2 linked regions of the Homo sapiens genome follow. The protein of the gene in region 2 interacts with the protein of the main gene of each other region in a pairwise test. Each region holds a gene or a part of one and is shown on either strand. Other genes may lie near its edges.

The links.
Region 1: the proteins of ZRSR2 (region 2) and SPATS2L interact in a two-hybrid assay, tested with the Homo sapiens proteins (one large-scale study listed by BioGRID).

Annotation. Positions count from the first base shown.
Region 1 is NC_000002.12:200,480,101-200,482,964, reverse strand, and holds the end of SPATS2L (SPATS2-like protein), read right to left. Parts: 3' UTR 701-2,864; downstream 1-700.
Region 2 is NC_000023.11:15,817,906-15,821,733, reverse strand, and holds part of ZRSR2 (U2 small nuclear ribonucleoprotein auxiliary factor 35 kDa subunit-related protein 2), read right to left. Parts: intron 3,148-3,828; coding exon 3,092-3,147; intron 1,528-3,091; coding exon 1,418-1,527; intron 1-1,417. UniProt on the Homo sapiens protein: Pre-mRNA-binding protein required for splicing of both U2- and U12-type introns. Selectively interacts with the 3'-splice site of U2- and U12-type pre-mRNAs and promotes different steps in U2 and U12 intron splicing.

The sequences.
Region 1 (2,864 bases), on a different chromosome or scaffold from region 2:
TGGCGAAACCCCATCTCTACTGAAAATACAAAAATTAGTCAGGTGCGGTGGTATGCATCTCTAGTCCCGGCTACTTGGGAGGCTGAGGCTGGAGAATCGCTTGAGCCCAGGAGCTGGAGGCTGCAGTGAGCTGTGATTGCACCACTGCACTCCAGCCTGGGTTACAGAATAAAATCCTATCTCACACACACACACACAAAAAAAAAAAAAAGAAAAAAAAAAGGATACTTTTTTTTTTTTTTGACAGGGAGCACTTTTTACACTGCTATTTTCTGTAGAAGTTCTTTGGCCATTGTCACAGTCATGCTTCTGAACCATTTTTTTTTTTTTTTTTTTTTTTTTGCCAGAAGTCTACATAATTTCTCAGACAAATTTGCTTTGGAATATACTCATTATTCTGCAAAAGTTGTTTGTGGCAATTCTTCCTATGAAACTGGAACTTAGTGGCAGCCCCAGAAGCTCCTCTGAGCTGTGGGAAAAAACAGAGTTCTCAGACAAAGGGACTTCTGATAATTAATCATTAATGTGTAAGAACCTTGAATGATGAGAGCAGCATTGTGTATTTCTCAGATAGACTAGATTCAGACCAGAGTGCCTTTGCCTGCAGGGCTGCTATAATGAGATTAAACACTGGCTTGGCCAGCTGAGCAGCCTCCCAGGACTGGGGACCTGGTTCTTTGAAACTAAGAATAAACACAAAACTTTGTTAGAATTTATTAAAGAAGCAAAAAGATTTTAAAATCCTTATAATGGATTGTAAAGAATAGTATTTAAATTACATTTCAAATTCTTAGCTAAGTAACAAGAGAATCACTGGGACTTTGCAACTCTTCATAATTTTCTCACAAAATCAGAGCAATTGAGATGGCTCAGTACTTTCAAGGAAATGCTGGAACAATGTATTAGGCGAACTGCTTTTTTTCCTTTTTTTTTGGTCTTTTGCTATTTTATAGTTTGCTTAAGAAACTTAAGAACAAGTGACTGGGGCCGGGCGCAGTGGCTCACCCCTGTAATCCCAGCACTTTGGGAGGCCGAGGGGGGTGGATCACGAGGTCAGGAGATCAAAACCATCCTGGCTAACACGGTGAAACCCTGTATCTACTAAAAATACAAAAAATTAGCCAGGTGTGGTGGCGGGTGCCTGTAGTCCCAGCTACTCGGGAGGCTGAGGCAGGAGAATGGCGTGAACCCGGGAGGCGGAGCTTGCAGTGAGCCGAGACCGCGCCACTGCACTCCAGCCTGGGCGACAGAGCGAGACTCCATCTCAAAAAACGCGTACAGCAAAAAAGGGTGCCGTTACATAGGTCATTGGATGCTATCACTGGAATGTCTGTTGAGAAATAAACGTTTTACCATCTGTAGACACATGAGGGCGCTTTAAGCAGGCAGCGTGGGATGCAGCGTGCAAAGGGAGGGAGGGAGGAAGAAAGCTTTGTCAAAGGTAGCCTGAAATTCAGGCATCTCCCTATCTGGTTGCGGACCTGTGCCTGCGTCGGGGTGGGGAGCACCGAATCGATTTAGGAAAAGAACTGCGCAGGCCCTTGATCCCCACTTCTCATGGTGAAATCAAGTTTGAGGTTCAAATCAAGGCTTTCAGAGAGTCAGAATTTCCAAATCTGTTACTTTGTCAAAAAACTGCTTTTAATCTGGTAACGTTTCCCATTAACCTCATTTGATGTCCTTCCCTAAGAATGTTTAATTAGAATCTCCTTTTCTGATGCCAGCAGAATTGAACTGCTTGTGAACTGAGCTTTAAATTGGACATGTTGTGTTTCTAGTCCTCCACTGAGGGTGAATTTTGCAGCAATTTGCGTTTAACTTTCTGTGTCTTGCTGCATTAAGCACTTCTAGAATAGGATCAACAGGACAGAGCTGGAGTATGCAGAGATTCTCAAAAGAAATGTAAATTTGGAATGTAATTGGGAACCCAACAGGGAGGTGTGGATTTCACGGATGAAGTCTTGGTGGAAGATCTAAGTGCCACAATGTGAGTTTGAAGTTATTCCATCTTCATAAGGATTAAACTATTTTAACCTCTACTAGGCAAATGTTTAAGAGAATAATCTGACTACTGTGCATTAAGTAGAGAGATTAGAGTTTAAAACACTTTAAATGAATGGCAGAATAGGACTCAGTTCTCTAGGATCACACCAATAGTTCCACCAGACAGATGAAGATATGTAATACAGTGTTTAAGCGGCCTGACATTGGCACTAAAATATTGAAATTACTGTTTCAAAAATGCAAACTAATAAATGCTTACATGCCCAGGGTCTATAAGAAAGGCAAAAACCAGCCAGGCGAGGTGGCTCATGCCTGTAATTCTAACACTTTGGGAGGCCAAAGCAGGAAGATCACTTGAGCTCCGGAGTTCGAGACCAGTCTGGGCACCATAGTGAGACCTCGTTTCTACTAAAAATTTAAAAAGTAGCTGGGACGTTGTGGTGCACACCTGTAGTCCTCGCAACTTGGGAGGCTGAGGATGGCTTGAGCCCAGGAGTTCAAGGCTATAGTGAGCCATGATCATGCACTCCAGCCTAGGTGATAGAGCAAGACCCTGTCTCAAAAACATGCACTCCAGCCTAGGTGATAGAGCAAGACCCTGTCTCAAAAAAAAAAAAAAAAAGGAAAAAATATTGGAAAAAATGTGATCAGGTCTGAGCACTTTTTAGCATTCTTTTGTTTCTTTTCAGTGACATGGGAGTGTTTGCTCTGTGCTCAGGAATGTGTTTGGGCTTTCTTAACCCTAAGGGAGTGAGTCGAGGTCAAGAGTGGTTGGGTTCAACTCTGACAAAGGCAGGTGAACTCCTGACCTGGCAAATTCATTTTTTTCCCTGTTCCAAGAATTACTTGACTCATCTTTA
Region 2 (3,828 bases):
AATGTTAAGAAATGAAACTATGACCTTGAAGAAAACATACAAGTAAATCTTTGTGACCCTGGGCTAAGCAATGTCATCCTAGATGTGACACCAAAACAAACAAAAAAATAGTTAAGTTGGATTTCATCAAAATTTACAACTTGTATTTCAAAAGAACATGAAGTGAAAAGAACCTACAAAATGGGAGAAAATATCTGCAAATCATATTTGTGACCAGGTACTTGTATGGAGAATATACCAAGAACTCTTACAACTCAATAATAAAAAGACAAAGAGCCTAGTTAGAAAATAGGCAAAGGATCCAAACAGACATCTCTCCAAAGAAGACATACAAATGGCCAATAATGAAAAGATGCTCAGTGTCTTTAGTCAATAAGGAAAATAAAGTGTTTTTTTTTTTTTAATGAAATAGTCCCCTGCTTTGGAGGAGTCAAGGTCACACTCAGAAGCTCCTCACTGAACTCACACTGGATTCCCAGGAACTGACAAAAGTAACTGCCTTTATGGAGCGAACAATTCCACCTCTTCCATCCCCCGAGCCTTTAAAGTGTAATGGTTCTTCTGGTTTCCCTTAGCCAGGAATCCTAAAATCTTTCTTTTCCCTTCATAAATGGTTTCAGAATGACAGAATCCAAGGAAGACAAGCTTGCCAAAGATTCTGACTTTGCGTTAGGCAGGCATGTATACAGCAAAGAAACACAAGTAAACGGTAAGATAAGTGCTCCCCAGAGGCATTTAGAGCTCATCTCTTTTCACCTAGGGAACAGTCCACTGAGAGAAATCAGAACATAACTAGGCCTTCAAAACTGCTGGCTATTCTGCACAAGACTGGATCATTTCCTGATTGGGTTGCCACTGTCCGATGTCAGTCTGACTGCATTCATGTTTAACTGATCCCAAGCCTACAATTAGTCTCTAGTGCACAGAAGGATGTATTATTCCAAGTAAGGCAGGAAATGCTATGGGCAAGGTAACGTAGGTGGTCATGACAGAAGATTCATTAGGGATAAAGATGGAAAGAAAGAAACAAACAAACAGCTCAAGTGAAGTGAGCCAATGAATATAAAATACCTCTGAAACTGCAACAAGGGAAATGGGGCTTCCACAGACGTAAACTCCTCAGGCTTCCTGATTTGTCAGACACAGAGCCCAGGACTGAAGATTGGAAGACTGGAATTCTAGCCCCACCTCTGTCACCAATACGTTGTGACCTCAGTCACTTCATCTATCAAGTGACTCATTGAGGTCGGTTACAGATCTAAACTGTGGTGTTCTTTATATAAAGTTCTCTGCTCATCTACTGTGTGAGGCAAAAAGCTATGCCTCACCACTTGAAAATACTGGGTTTCCCCCAAAGAATATCCCTTTATATAGCAGTGGAACAATTGAGGAAAAAAATCATCACTTTGTCTTTTACCACAAATCGCCATTTTCCACCGGGTCACGGGGCAGAATTCACACTGCAGCTGTCGTCCTGCATACCATCGTCCGTTAAACAGAGAAAGGGCTGCTTGGCATTCTTCTTCCCTTTAAACCAAAAATCAAATGATATGCTTTACAGTAACTTCCTAATATGTAGATTAGCTCTACTATTAATTAACCCCGTTATTAATTTATTGTAGGACCACCAAGTTCACTGATTTTGTACCTAGGGAAGAGTCATTAAAATGGTCAAGCTCCCAAAGCTCCCAATTTATTCAGGAACCCTTTTTACTAACCCTCGGAGAGGTTTCAATGCATGGAAATTGGCTTGAATGAAACCGTCTTAATCCAAAAGATTGGACCATTAAAAATGCAGAAGTGTTTTCCATTATTAGGGCCTATTCTTTCTCAGATAGGATTGCTGTTCTTCTTATTACACTGGTTAATTTAACCCATTAGCCATGGTATGGCCTAGGCAAACAGCAAGATAAGAAGAAATGATACATTAATTGCTCTCTTAGCTGGTCAAATGCACACTAAGATGATTTTGGGCTTCAATCTCCGGCTCTTTCACTATAAATGCTTTTATGTTCTCTATTCTAGTTATCCCTTATTAGTTTGTATTTTAATTATTAAAATTATGAGTAATAATATAACCATATTGTAAAACATTCAAAACTATGTAAATATATAAAGAATGAAATATAAATTTATTATTTTTTTCTTTTTGAGATGGAGTCTTACTCTCACTCTGTCCCCCAGGCTAGAGTGTCGTGGTACAGTCATACCTCACTGCAGCCTCGACCTCCTGGGCTCAAGTGATCCTCCTGCCTCAGCCTCACAAATAGCTGGGACTACCAGCACATGCCACCACATTCGGCCAATTTTTAAATTTTTTTGTAGAGATGAGGTCTCTCTTGAAGCGATTCTCCTGTCTCAGCCTCCCAAGTAGCTGGGATTACAGGTGCCTGCCACCACGCCTGGCTAATTTTTTGTATTTTTAGTAGAGATGGGGTTTTGCCATGTTGACCAGGCTGGTCTTGAACTCCTGGCCTCAAGCAATCCTCCCACTTCAGCCTCCAAAAGTGTTGGGATGACAGGTGTGAGCCACCATGCCCGGCTTATATTATTTTCACATCCATTCTATATTTCTGTTTCAACTCTTAATATTTAAGTTTTAAATATTTAGATTTATTTAAACTTTAATTTTATTTAAATATTTTAAAATATATGAAAGCTGGGCCAAACACAGTGGCTCACGCCTGTAATCCCAGTACTTTGGGAGGCCGAGGTGGGTGGATCACCTGAGGTCAGGAGTTCGAGACCAGCCTGGTCATCATAGTAAAACCCCATCTCTACTAAAAATACAAAAAATTAGCTGGGCATGGTGGCAGGCACCTGTAATCCCAGCTACTCAGGAGGCTGAGGCAGGACAATCACTTGAACCTGGGAGGTGGAGGTGGCAGTGAGCTGAGAACACGCCATTGCACTCTAGCCTGGGCAACAAGAGCGAAACTCCGTCTCAAAAGAAAAAAACAAAATAAAAATAAAAACATAAGAAATAAAATACATGAAAGTTATATATCCAGTGGAAAAATCCCAGACATCAACAGAAACAGAACAACAAACTGTGACAAATCAGGAAGACATCCACAAGCAGAATACTTACGACTGGTACTGAACATATACATTGCCCCTCAGGTGAGGTTCCAAATTGCAGCTGACCTAGGGAGCAATGAAGAATGCTATCATAAAAAATTCAGGAAAAGAAACCAGCCATTCATCAAATGTTGTTTGTCCAGGCTAACATTCCCCAAAGTAGTTACCAATCAAAGATTGCAAAATAGAGATACTAGCTGACTCTTGCATCTATTTAAGGCGTACTTGGCACATGGCAGCGTGCCTGATCCCTGTTGGTCCAGGTCTGTTTTCTCCCACAAATATGAAATGTTTCACACATCCATAAAAATACAGAAGATATCAATCAGCCTATATATGCACTACCCAGATTTAACACTAACGTTTTCCACTTCTGAATGAGAATATTTACATATGTAAAACATTAAAGACTCAGTTGAAGCCCTTCTATCCCATTCTTCTCCCTCCTCCATCACATAGGTGAACACTCTCCACAGGCTAGGAGTGTAGCCTTCACATTCCAAACACAAACACACATATACATACATAGACCTACACAGACACAAATACAAATACACAGATACAGGCATATATACATACATCATATGCATGCCAAAACCCACACATATGTATCATACATATAAATGTCCATTATTTATAATGGGTATACACATATATATACATATGCAAAGAAACAGGTAATACGTATTGATAAACAACATATAGTGTTGCTTTGTATGTTTTAAAATTTTATATCAATAGTATTTA